Linked DNA regions of Homo sapiens: regions 2 and 3 are each linked to region 1. Evidence: fine-mapped expression QTL. A gene starts in region 1. Each other region holds a variant in brackets. All regions are shown on one strand. Distances are between the middles of the regions.

Evidence for each region. PIP is the estimated chance that this variant, and not a neighbour inherited with it, causes the effect.
Region 2: its variant is the best candidate, but not a certain one, in a credible set for the expression of TNFRSF10A in whole blood (TOPMed, PIP 0.69).
Region 3: its variant is the best candidate, but not a certain one, in a credible set for the expression of TNFRSF10A in esophagus muscle (GTEx, PIP 0.75).

Annotation. Positions count from the first base shown.
Region 1 is chr8:23,223,350-23,227,475 of GRCh38, reverse strand. It overlaps TNFRSF10A (TNF receptor superfamily member 10a), which reads left to right and starts at 2,374. Exons shown (of 10, transcript NM_003844.4): 1 at 2,374-2,720. The coding sequence starts at 2,415. TNFRSF10A-DT (TNFRSF10A divergent transcript) reads right to left here and starts at 2,255. Exons shown (of 3, transcript NR_033928.1): 1 at 1,353-2,255. RefSeq lists an enhancer at 1,982-2,121, silencers at 2,173-2,364, 2,532-2,781, promoters at 1,764-2,417, 612-2,417, 1,846-2,882 and a cis regulatory region at 2,803-2,882.
Region 2 is chr8:23,197,859-23,201,984 of GRCh38, reverse strand. TNFRSF10A (TNF receptor superfamily member 10a) reads left to right here. Exons shown (of 10, transcript NM_003844.4): 4 at 66-177; 5 at 1,225-1,298; 6 at 1,385-1,480; 7 at 2,068-2,099; 8 at 2,537-2,719. Among named protein-coding and RNA genes, the nearest start is that of TNFRSF10A, 25 kb to the left of the region's middle. The variant G/T (reference allele first, on the strand shown) is at 1,734.
Region 3 is chr8:23,253,839-23,257,964 of GRCh38, reverse strand. It overlaps CHMP7 (charged multivesicular body protein 7), which reads right to left. Exons shown (of 11, transcript NM_152272.5): 4 at 2,533-2,718; 5 at 1,372-1,505. Among named protein-coding and RNA genes, the nearest start is that of CHMP7, 12 kb to the right of the region's middle. The variant G/A (reference allele first, on the strand shown) is at 2,055.

The sequences.
Region 1 (4,126 bases):
AGCCGAGATCAGGCCACTGCACTCCAGCCTGGGCGAAAGAGTGAGACTCTGTCTCAAAAAAAAAAAAAAAAAAAAAAAAATTCAACATGAGTTTTGGAGAGGACATTCAAACTACAGCAGGCATCTATGAGGAAACTATAACTAACATCATATCTAATGGTGATTAATTAGATGTGTTCTAAGATATGGAATAAGATAAGCATGTCTGCTTTAACTATTTCTATTTAACATTGTACTGGAAATCCTATCCAGGGCAATTCAGCAACAAAGATGAATAGAAGGTATAAAGATTGGAAAGGAAGAACTGAGACAGTTTTTGGTTACTGACAATAGGATTGCTTACATAGAAAATCCTAAATAATCTATAAAATAACAACTAGAAATATATCAATTTAGCAGTACCATAGCATACAAGGCCGATGGACAAAAATCAACTGTATTTCTGTATAGTTGCAACAAACAATTTGAAAATAAGGGAAGCTAAATCAATTCCATTAGCAATAGTAACAAAAATAGTTAGAAATATGTTTACAAAAGATATGAAAGATTTGTACATGGAAAGTTTGCAAAATATTGTCAAGCTTAAGTAACAAATATCTAAATAAATAAATTTCATGGATTGAAAGACTCAAAATTGTTAAAATGTCAATTATTCTCATTCATCTCTACATTCAATGCAATCCCAATTAAAATTCCAGTAGGCTTTTTTAACTGAAAAAAATTATTCTATATTTAATATATACGGAAATGCAAACCATTTGGGAGGTGGGTAGTAGGGGGAGGACTTGAACTGCCTGATTTCAAGACTGACTATACAGCTCATAATTAGGACAATGTGGTAATTAGCATGAGAATAGCCAAATAAATAAACGGAACAGAATAGAGTCCGGAAATGGACACATACATATATATGGTCAATTTAATTTCAACAAAAGTGATAAGGCTATTGGATAAGGAAAAAAAGTCTTTTTTTTTTTTTTTTTTGAGACGGAGTTTCCCTCTTGTGGCCCAGGCTGGAGCGCAATGGCTCCATCTCGGCTCCCCGCAGCCTCTGCCTCCCGGGTTCAAGCGATTCTCCTGCCTCAGTCTCCCGAGTGGCTGGGATTACAGGCATCCGCCACCACGCCCCGCTAATTTTGTATTTTTAGTAGAGGCTGCGTTTCTCCATGTCGGTCAGGCTGGTCTCGAACTCCTGACCTCAGGTGATCCGCCCGCCTCGGCCTCCCAAAGTGCTGGGATTACAGGCGTGAGCCACCGCGCCCGGTCGAAAAGAGTCTTTTCAACAAATGGTACCGGAACACCATTAAAATATGGAGAAAAATGAACATCAATCAGCGCCCCCTTTCTCTTACCCACTCCTCAGCCCCAAGGTCGCCCTGGGAGTTCTTCGCAGGCAGGACCGTGACTCGCGTGGCTTTCGGGAGGCTGATTACCCACGCCCCATGCCCGTGCAGCGCTGGGTGCAGAGGAACCGCTGGAAGGACCTGTCCCCCGTGGGACCCCCACCAAGTCTCATCCCGTGTCATGTGCCAGATAGTCTCCCGTGGTTTAAGGACTTTCAAGACTCTTAACAGGTTAGGAAAATCCAGAAGAAAGGCAGAATTGGGTCCCTCGGGCTTGCCTGACACCAGGGACGGTGGAGTTGAGGTGACATTTCACTGGCATGGAGACCTGAAACCAAAAGCAGGATGAGCCGGGCACGGTGGCTCACGCTTGTAATCCCAGCACTTTGTAAGGCCGAAGCGGGCGGATCACGAGATCAGGAGCTCGAGACCAGCCTGGCCAAAACAGTGAAACCCCCGTCTCTACTAAAAATAGAAAAAAAATTAGCCGGACGTGGTGGCGGGCACCTGTAATCCCAGTTACTCAGGAGGCTGAGGCAGGAAAATCGCTTGAACCTGGGAGGCGGAGGTTGCAGTGAGCCGAGATCGTGCCACTGCACTCCAGCCTGGGCGACAGAGCTTGACTCCATCTCAAAAAAAAAAAAAAAAAAAAAAGGCAGGCTGAATCACTCGCCCGGTAGTGACGGAGGAGGCCGTAAAAGCCTCTTAGAGGCCAGACCCCGCAGTGGCCTCTGTGTCCTTCATTCCGCCACCCATCCGTCCACCGAGCGCCTGCTGGGTGCCAGGAACTGGGTCACAGAAAGGCTGAGGTCAACTCCCGACCGAGAAGCCTGGCGCTGGGACCAAGTGGCAAAACGACTCCGAATGCAGCGGCATCCACGCGGCGGCCGTGGTTGAGGAACAGAAGCTGAGAGCGGCAAGGGCGGTCACAGAGGAAGGAAGTTCAGGGTTAGCCAACAGGAGCCGCAGGTGCCCCGAAAAGGGGGCGGGGTCAGGGGTGCCCTGAACTCCGAATGCGAAGTTCTGTCTTGTCATAGCCAAGCACGCTGCTTCTTGGATTGACCTGGCAGGATGGCGCCACCACCAGCTAGAGTACATCTAGGTGCGTTCCTGGCAGTGACTCCGAATCCCGGGAGCGCAGCGAGTGGGACAGAGGCAGCCGCGGCCACACCCAGCAAAGTGTGGGGCTCTTCCGCGGGGAGGATTGAACCACGAGGCGGGGGCCGAGGAGCGCTCCCTACCTCCATGGGACAGCACGGACCCAGTGCCCGGGCCCGGGCAGGGCGCGCCCCAGGACCCAGGCCGGCGCGGGAAGCCAGCCCTCGGCTCCGGGTCCACAAGACCTTCAAGTTTGTCGTCGTCGGGGTCCTGCTGCAGGTGAGTCCCCACCGCGGTCCTGCCTGGGGAAAAGCGCGCCTGGCACCGGGAGGGGGCAGAGAGAGAGGGGGACGCGGCGGGGGTGCCTGGCCCGGGTCACTTGTGGCGGGGCATGTCCGGGCAGGAGGAGCCCGTCGTCGGAGTCGGAGGAAGAACGGGGTCCCCGGGGCCAGGCAGGAGCGACCCGGGCCTGGAGGCAGCAGAGCCCCCTCCCGCAGGAGGCTGGGCCCGGGGACTCCACCCCGTTGGCTGCTGCCTGGCGCGTCTCCCTCCTGCCCACACCTCACGATGTATCGGGAAGTTTCGGAATCGATAGAGCTCAAGTGTGTAAACTTCCAAGCCAACTCCCAGCCACACCAGCTGCGTGAAGGGGAGCGCCATTCTCCCCACTCCCTGATTCCCTCCCCACCCCCGTCCTTCTTTTCTTCTCTTCTTTTTTTTTTTTTTTTTTTTTTTGAAACGGAGTCTCTCTCTGTCGCCCAGGCTGGAGTGTAGTGGCGCGATCTCGGCTCACTGCAAGCTCCGCCTTCCTGGTTCAAGCGATTCTCCTGCCTCAGCCTCCCGAGTAGCTGGGAGTACAGGCTCCTGCCACCACGCCCGGCTAATTTTTTGTATTTTTAGTAGTCACGGGGTTTCACTGTGTTAGCCAAATCCGCCCGCCTCGGCCTCCCAAAGTGCTGGGATTACAGGCGTGAGCCACCGCGCCCGGCCCTCCATCCTTCTTTTCTTAGACAAATTGGTTAAACACGCAGCCCGGCAGGAAAAAGTAACTTTCTCTCCTCTGCTCGTTGTCTTCCGTTTCGAGTCCACTGAGCACACCGGCAGCAGTTTCCTTCCAGCCACTTTCTTGCGCATCAACAGGTACAGGGCAGCGAATTGACCACCACGAGGCAGGCAGCCAGGAGCGGGGCACGCCCTTCCTTCAGGAGGCAGCGTTTCCTGTGAAAGCAATCACTCAGTCTGGAAAAATGCCAATGCCTTCAGTTCTCTTTCAAGTTCATTAAGGCTCTACCAATTGTTCTCATCCAGATTCCTTCTATGTTAAGGAAAAACAAAACGAAAGCTAAGTACCTGAAGGATAAACCAGTCTTACAAGTGTCAGGAAATTTTACGTGTTTTTGTTTAACAAACTAAACAAAATCCAGGAATCCAATAGCATTTTGAAATCTCCAAATAATTACAGAATTTATGTTTTAAACGTCAGTTTATGTTAGGTGGAACCCACGTTTGACTCTTATTTTTAATACGCTTATTAAATGGCTTTCTTTTTGACAGGCTAGTGCGATTCCAGGTGGATGTAGGGCTCACCTGTATAGACAAGGTGAAACATCTGAATTTGGTGGTTTTGGAAATGTCACAGTCCGTTGGTGTGGCTATAAAAGAATACTTGAGGCCAGGCGCGGTGG
Region 2 (4,126 bases), 25 kb after region 1:
GGTGAGGAAAGGTCAAGGGACACGTCAGGGAAACACATTCCCAAAACCTTGTACTCTGTCATCAGATGAAGAAGAGAGAAGTCCCTGCACCACGACCAGGAACACAGCATGTCAGTGCAAACCAGGAACTTTCCGGAATGACAATTCTGCTGAGATGTGCCGGAAGTGCAGCAGAGGGTGAGACAACAGCCAAGGGGCTCCCAGCAGCCTCAAAGAACCCACAGAAGCAAGGAACCCTAAAAAGACCCGAGTCTCCTTGTACCCGTATCTATCAGCCCTGACCCCATGGTGCCTCCACCCCCATAGGTGTCCCTGAGCCTGTGGCGTCTCCTGAGCCTGCAACCTGCCCCTCCTGGTCCATCTGCCTGTCCCCACCCCTGTCCCCTGCAGTGGCCCCTTCTCACCCCTCCCCAGCACTAGTCCCCTTGGCCAGGCTGACTTGTTCACTAGGCACAGGAGGCCATGACTTAGGGCCCACAACAGAGGTACATGAAATATTTTATCTTGAAATCATAAGAAAATAATGGTATAGAATCCAGCTGGGGTTATATTTATATTTAAACAAATTGAGTCATAAAATGTAATTTTTAATATTTGCTTTTAATTCAAGAAGACAGAAATGCCCACAGCCCGCAAAAATCATAATAAGGCCATGGGTGGAGCTCCTTCAAGTTCCCATGAGGACCTGAGCCCACCCAGCCAGCCTCACCCCTGGCCCCTGATTTCTCAATAAGTCCTGTCTTTTTCCTATTTTGGTTTTGGAAGCAAAGAGTAATTGCTCTTCTCTGGTCCTCCAGTGTTTGCTGTGATTGAGAGGAACCAGCAGACAGGTGGGGGCGAGGGCTCACTTGTACTGTGGGTTAACTGGAGGAAGGGGCTCAGCTTGTGGCCACACGGGCTTGTGATCTTCCCCTGGAGTGTGATTCCTCCTAACGCAGGCCTCCCCTGCAGCCCAGGGAAGATTAGTGTGTGCCCAGCACAGAAGGCTCCTGGAACTGCAGCTCTGACCCCAGAGCAGGGAGGCCAAGGGGGTAAAGTGTGCATGCTCAGACCCTTCCCCAGCCTAAACAAGGGAGCATAGGGGGACCCCCTGCAGATACGAGGAGACTATCCTTCCCCTGACGCCTTCTCAGGGACATTGGGCAGGGAGAGTGGCTCCTCTTTCATCCCACCTGGCCAGCTTTCCATCAAGAGTCCCCCCCCTCCCTCCCTGTGTGTACCCAGGTGCCCCAGAGGGATGGTCAAGGTCAAGGATTGTACGCCCTGGAGTGACATCGAGTGTGTCCACAAAGAATCAGGTACAAAGCCCACTGGGGAAGCCCCAGCTGCAGAGGAGACAGGGACCAGCAGCCCGAGACTCCTGTCTTTTCCTGTCTTTTCTCAGGCAATGGACATAATATATGGGTGATTTTGGTTGTGACTTTGGTTGTTCCGTTGCTGTTGGTGGCTGTGCTGATTGTCTGTTGTTGCATCGGCTCAGGTAGGTGCTGGCTGAGGGCAAGGGCTCTGGGCACTCTCTGCCCTGCCTTCTTCTGTTCCCACAGACAGAAACGCTCACCCCTGCCCCAAGTCCTAGTGTCTCTGGCCGGGCTCTATCTTCCTCCTTGTGATCACCCCCCATCCTCCCATCCTGTGCAACCCTAGGGCCCTGGTGTCATCCGTCCCTCTCCCAAGGCTGGGGGTCCCCTCATCTCCCAGCCAAGTCTGGGAAGGCAGGGCCAGTTCCTCCACTG[G/T]TCAGGCCCATCCAGGCAGGGGGCAGTCAGCTCCTCAACTGGATGACAAGAGTCGAGACGAGAAGTGGTTGTGGGATTTATGTAGCTTTGTTCAGAGCAAAACACAGAGCAGAAAACAGTGATGTTCCACTTGTTTGTTTTTAGCCTACTTCCCTTTATGCTCCCCGCTCCTGAAGGATCTCCCGAGTTAGCAGGGCCTCATGTGGATCCCCAGGCCCGGGGATCTTTGTCCAGTGTCCCAGCCCCCAGCCCACCCCTGCCCAACACTGCCCTCTAAGAAGGAGTGCTGCATGGGCCCCTCCCTGGCCACTAAGGGAACCGTCTTCTCTTCTAGGTTGTGGAGGGGACCCCAAGTGCATGGACAGGGTGAGTTGATTTCTCCAGGAGCTGGGGGCATCAGGGGCTCAGGAACTGCTTCTTGCCCACAGTGTAGTCCAGGTGGGTGGGTCCCCGTGCTCTCATGGCTGCCCTGAGTCTCTGAAGTGGCCTGGATGCTGTGCATTGACTATGGGGGACACAGGCCCTTTTGAGCATCATACAGGCTGGTGGGCCATTCTGTAGCCCTGTGCTTCCTACAGCCCAGGTGAGACCCTTACCCCACAGCCTGTACCCTGGGGATGGGGTGAGCCCCCAAGCCCAGCACCAGGGCCTGGCCCCAGCAGCAGGTCCTGGATGTGCTGAGCATGGACTTCCTGGAGTGACCTCACTGGGAGGGGGTGGTGGCAGCAGGTCCAGCCGTGCCCTACGGACCCCGTGGGGAGCCCTGGGTGTGGGCTTCTGAGTTGGCTCTTTGCCTTCCTAAGGTGTGTTTCTGGCGCTTGGGTCTCCTACGAGGGCCTGGGGCTGAGGACAATGCTCACAACGAGATTCTGAGCAACGCAGACTCGCTGTCCACTTTCGTCTCTGAGCAGCAAATGGAAAGCCAGGAGCCGGCAGATTTGACAGGTGTCACTGTACAGTCCCCAGGGGAGGCACAGTGTCTGCTGGTGAGTTGGGGACAGGCCCCTCCAAGACCTTGTAGGCAGGGGGTGAAGGCCATGCCTCGGCTCTCCTGGTCAAAGGGGAAGTGGAGCCTGAGGGAGATGGGACTGCAGGGGACGGGGCTGCGTGGGAAAAAGCAGCCACCCTCACAAGGGGACAGGCACTCTTCCAAATGTCTGCTTCTTAGTCCCTGTCCTGTCCTTGCCATGTCCTCAGAAACTGGAGCTCCAGAGGAATAGAGTGGGGGTCACAGGGTTTGTTGATGACTGAATAAGGCTGCACGGTCTCCACTGTGTGCTCCTACAGAAGTTAGGGAGCCCTTGCTCATAACAGCAGGGATTTTAAATTTACTCTGAAATTATTATTGCATTAAACATATTTGGATCTAAATCTCTGCCCAAATTTCTGCATATGGTTGTATGGAGGATTCCAAGAAGAAGCACAATTTCCAAGTCAGCCTGTAACAGTGCTGCTTACTGTGTACACGCACATACACGCACATGCACACACATGCATGTACACACATGCACACACACATGCACGTACCCACACATACAGGTACACACATGCACACAGCCCCCTAGTGTTGGTTTGTACCAGTTCATGTATTTTGATTTGACATTGAAGGGCTTTTTCTTTTCTTTTTTTTTCTTTTTTTTGCTATTTAGGAAAACATTGTTTTAAACGAACATTTCTTTGTTTTCACTGTTTTTGCGTAAGATCAGTGTCTTGTCTCTCAGAGTCTTTATGAGAAGGCCTGCTCTCCTACTCATGCTTTTTCTCACATTCAGACAGTAGATTCCTAATTTCTTCTTGCCCCTTTTTGTTCTAATATTTTCAGGTGTAGAAGCTTTAATTTTTAACCAGTGAAATCTGTAGATACTTTTACCTTTTCATTGCTCACTACTGTAGAAAGACCTTTTGCCAACACAAGACGAACTCCTCTAACTTCTTATGGAGATATTTTTTTCAATGATGTGATTTTTGCATATAACTTTATAATCTAAATGGAACTTGTTTTGTGTTTCAGTGCAAAGCGAGGCACTCCCTGAATTGTTCTAGTCACTGTCTGGTTTTTCCAACCCCTTTGAGCTGCCGATTCTCCCATTTCCCTCTGCTTTGGGTCCCTCCTTAATCACAGGTTAAATGCTCATCTAGACAATGATCTCCTTCCACCTAGACTGTTCCATTCAGTTCCTTTCTTGCATTAGTACCCATTTATTCTAACCAAAAATGTAATTAAAAAAAAAAGAAGGCAAACATTAAAAAGGTCAATAATCTCCAGCTTGATAAGGTGCTTTGACATGAACAAATAGTTTATATATTTAAAATGAGAAAATTTAAACTATCAAAAGGTACTCAGTAAGTAAAGAGAGCATCCTCCACTCTGCAGTGCCCTGGGTCTTTTTCCT
Region 3 (4,126 bases), 30 kb before region 1:
TGAGAGCAGCACTCAGTTAAGGTGGTTTTAAATCTGAAGACTAAACCCAATACCCAGTGGCAAGAAAACTGATGCTGACGGCAAAAACTCTTGTGGCAAGTCTGTTGACAGTCTGTTGTGGCAGGCTCAAGCAGGCTGACTAAGGATAAGCTTTTTCAACCCACAGGGACAGAACATGCAAACAGGGCACATTATACACATCTTCCTGTTTTGGGGAGACAGGGAAGGAACTGTTAACACCAACAATGACCTCGGACATATCCTCTGCCTCCCAACAAGGCTAGACTTTCCCACCTGGAAGACAGACTTCAATGTCTGTGTTCTCCTGCCAGAGGGTGTGTCTTTATTAGGGATTCCTTGTACAGTCATTCAGGGGGAAGGGCAGGGGAAGAGCCCCTCAGAAAGACCTCTGCAAAGGCAGGGACCTGTCTTGTCCACGGCTGTATCCCCAGTCCCTAAGACAATGCCTGGCTCAATAAATATTAGTTGAATGGACACTGGCAAGGAAGAGCATAAACATAACATTCACAGTCATGGTCTGTGGGGGAAGCATTAAGACTCACGTTTTCAGCTGGGCACAGTGGCTCACCCCAGTAATCCCAGCACTTTGGGAGGCTGAGGTGGGGGTCTTGTTTGCGCCGAGGAGTGTGAGACCAGCCTGGGCAACATGGTGAGACCCCATCTCAACAAAAAATTAAAAATTAGCCAGGCATGGTGGTGCACACTTGTGGTCCCAGCTACTCAGGAGGCTAAGGCGGGAAGATTGCTTGAGCTCAGGAGTTAGACTGCAGTGAGCTAAGATCATGTCACTGCTCTCCAGCCTAGGGGACAGTGCAAGACCCTGTCTCAATTGAGGAAAAAAAAAAAAAAAAAGGCCGGGCACGGTGGCTCACGCCTGTAATCCCAGCACTTTGGGAGGCAGAGGCGGGCGGATCACGAGGTCAGGAGATTCAGACCATCCTGGCTAACACAGTGAAACCCCATCTCTACTAGAAATATAAAAAATTCGCCAGGCGTGGTGGCGGGTGGCTGTAGTACCAGCTACTCGGGAGGCTGGCGCAGGAAAATGGCGTGAACCCAGGAGGCGGAGCTTGCAGTGAGCCGAGATCGCACCACTGCACTCCAGCCCGGGTGACAGAGCGAGACTCCGTCTCAAAAAAAAAAAAAAAAAAAAAGAGGCCTCATTTTTTTTTCTCTTTTGTGATATTCTGTGCTTTCCATGATTTCTGCATTGAGCAGTGAGTACTTTTGTAATTAGCTAAAAAAAAAAAAAACCCACCTATTTTTTAAAAGCCCACATATACTAACATTTTGCTGGCTCTGGGGGCCAGCAACAGTGGGGAGGAGGCTCAGTTCAGGGTTAAAAGTTACCTCTCTGCTTCCTGGGATAAGGACTCCACTTTGCGTGAGAGAAGCTGTTCACTCTGCATCAGCTGGTACACCCCAACATCTACGTCATTGACTGGAGAGACCTTGGCACGTGGCCCTCGGGCAAACTTCACAATCTGAGGGACAGGGAGAAATTACTACTGCTGCTACCACAAAGGCTGAGAAATTCCCAACCAGGAGCGCTGGTGGTGGGCATGTGAGAACAGCAGGCCCCCCTTATCCATGGGGGATATGTTCCAGTGAATGGAATCCCCTGTGGAGGTCTGAACCCTCAGAGAATACTGAACCCTATACATATAGCTATGTAAACATTTTTCCTTCTTCACAATTTTTCCTATAGAAGATTCATTCTTACTGTAGATCCTAGCAAACTCAGCAAATGATATTTGGTCTTCCTTATTTGGTCCAGAACTTTTACCTTTTCACTTAAAGGAAGCACTTGACCGCTTCTCTTTGGTAAATCTGGACTGCCAGCACCACTGCTCTTGTGCTTTGGGGCCATTATTAAGTATAATAGGCCAGGCACGGTGGTTTACACCTGTAATCCTAGCACTTTGGGAGGCCGAGGCAGGCAGATCACTTGAGGTCAGGAGTTCAAGACAGCCTGGCTAACTGGTGAAACCCCTTCTCTACTAAAAATACAAAAATTAGCCAGGGGCCGTGGC[G/A]CATGCCTGTAATTCCAGCTACTTGGGAGGCTGAGGCAGAAGAATCGCTTGAACCCGGGAGGCGGAGGCTGCAGTGAGCTCAGATTGCGCCATTGCTGGGCGACAGAGCAAGACTCCATCTCAAAAAAAAAAAAAAAAAGTACAATAAGGGTGGCTTGAACACAACCACTGCAATGCTGTGACAGTCAATCTGATCACTGAGACGACTCCTAAGTGACTCAGGCGGGGAGATGCTGGACAAAGCAGGGATGCGCATACAGGCGGGATACTACGAGGTCCCATCACACTACTCAGAACAGTGCACAACTGAAATCTATGGAACTGTTAATGTTTGGAATTTTCCACTTATTATTTTTGGACCGTGGTTGACGGCAGGTTACTGAAACTCTGGAAACCAAAATCTGAGATAAGGGCTCACTACTCTATGTACTTAATCAATCACTGCTGAGTCAGTGAATGAACAGATGAGCCTCCATACCTTCTCCCCGTTCTGCTCGAGGACTGTGACCCTCTTCTCCTTCTGCAGCTGCAGCAACACCAAGTAGAAGGTCCTCTCATCTGGGCAGGAGTTAGCACAGAGGGTGCTGAGCTCTGACAGGGCCACCACGGGGTGGGAGGAGAGGGGCGAGTTCTGATACAGACGATACACCTCCTCAGCCTTTTCCTGTGGGAAAGGCAACATTGGCTGACAGGCCCTGGCCACTGCCATGGGATGCAGGGACCCTGACCCTGAGTTTCAAAACCATGATCACACAAGGCAAGCACCCGGGAATCCCAACCCCATCCTCCCCAAAGTAGCGGCTTTTCAAAAAGGAGGAAGGATCTGTGTTTTTAAGCCTTGGAGGAAAGTTTGGTGACTCCACATGAAATGAGGCACATGAGATGCTGGGAGCCAGCTCTGCGCTGCACGCCCATCGGGGATTTTACACTCCTGCCTCTCACTGGCCTGTGGTTTCCCAAGGGAAGACTGAGGAGGTGAGGTGAGGTAGAACAGCTGTGAACGAGAGCTGAGGCCTGATTTCCAGCCTAGCCTGGGTGACCTTGGGCCAGTCACAGCCTCACTAGTCCTCAGTATCACTCTCTGAAGAGGGTGGATGAAATGACATCTAATTCCCTTCCAATTGTAGTCTCTCCATTTTCCTGCCAATTGGCTATACTGCAAACACAAACATTATTGACTCTGTAAAAAGCCTTAAGGGAAAAGGGCCAGGCGTGGCAGCTCATGCCTGTAATCCCAGCACTCTGGGAGGCTGATCACCTGAGGTCAGGATCACCTGAGGTCAGGAGTTCGAGACCAGCCTGGCCAACATGGCAAAACCCTGTCTTTACTAAAAATACAAAAAAAAAAAATAGCTGGATGTGATGGCGGGCACCTGTAATCCCAGCTACTTGGGAGGTTGAGGCAGGAGAATCACTTGAACCTGGGAGGCGGAGGTTGCAGTGAGCCGAGATCGCGCCACTGCACTCCAGCCTGGGCGACAAGAGCAAAACTCTGTCTCAAACAGAACAAAACAAAACAAAAAACAAAGAAAAGTACATAATAAACAGATGGGATAAGATTAGTGACAAGAGTAAGAAATATAAGTTCCAAGAAATAATGTCACCATTTCGCTCATACATGGAAATTACTACCAGAAACAAGAAAGACTGAGGTGTCCATGGGATGCTATGAAAATATAGGGAAGGACTGCCTGGGGATTCAGGATTTCTTGAAAAAAAAAAAAAGTTGAGCAGAATTCTGAAGAGTGAGCAAGTTCCTAGGTGAAGAGGTGAAACGGGTATCTCGGGAAGAGAGAGGAACATGAGCATAGAAGGGTGGGTCAATGCGGCACGTGTACAAATGTAGAGGGGAAAGGAGAGAGAGGAGAAGCACTCCTATATTATAGAAAGTGTAATATCCTATATTATAGAAAGTGTAATATCTTATGATGATCCTTTATTCTGTAGATGGTGGGTGGTCACTGAAGGAAACTGACATGGCTAGATTAACAGAAAGCTAACTGCCAATTGGGAGACGATGGATTGTAGAGTTAAGATTAGAGGCAAGGAGACCATTTACACAAGAGATTATG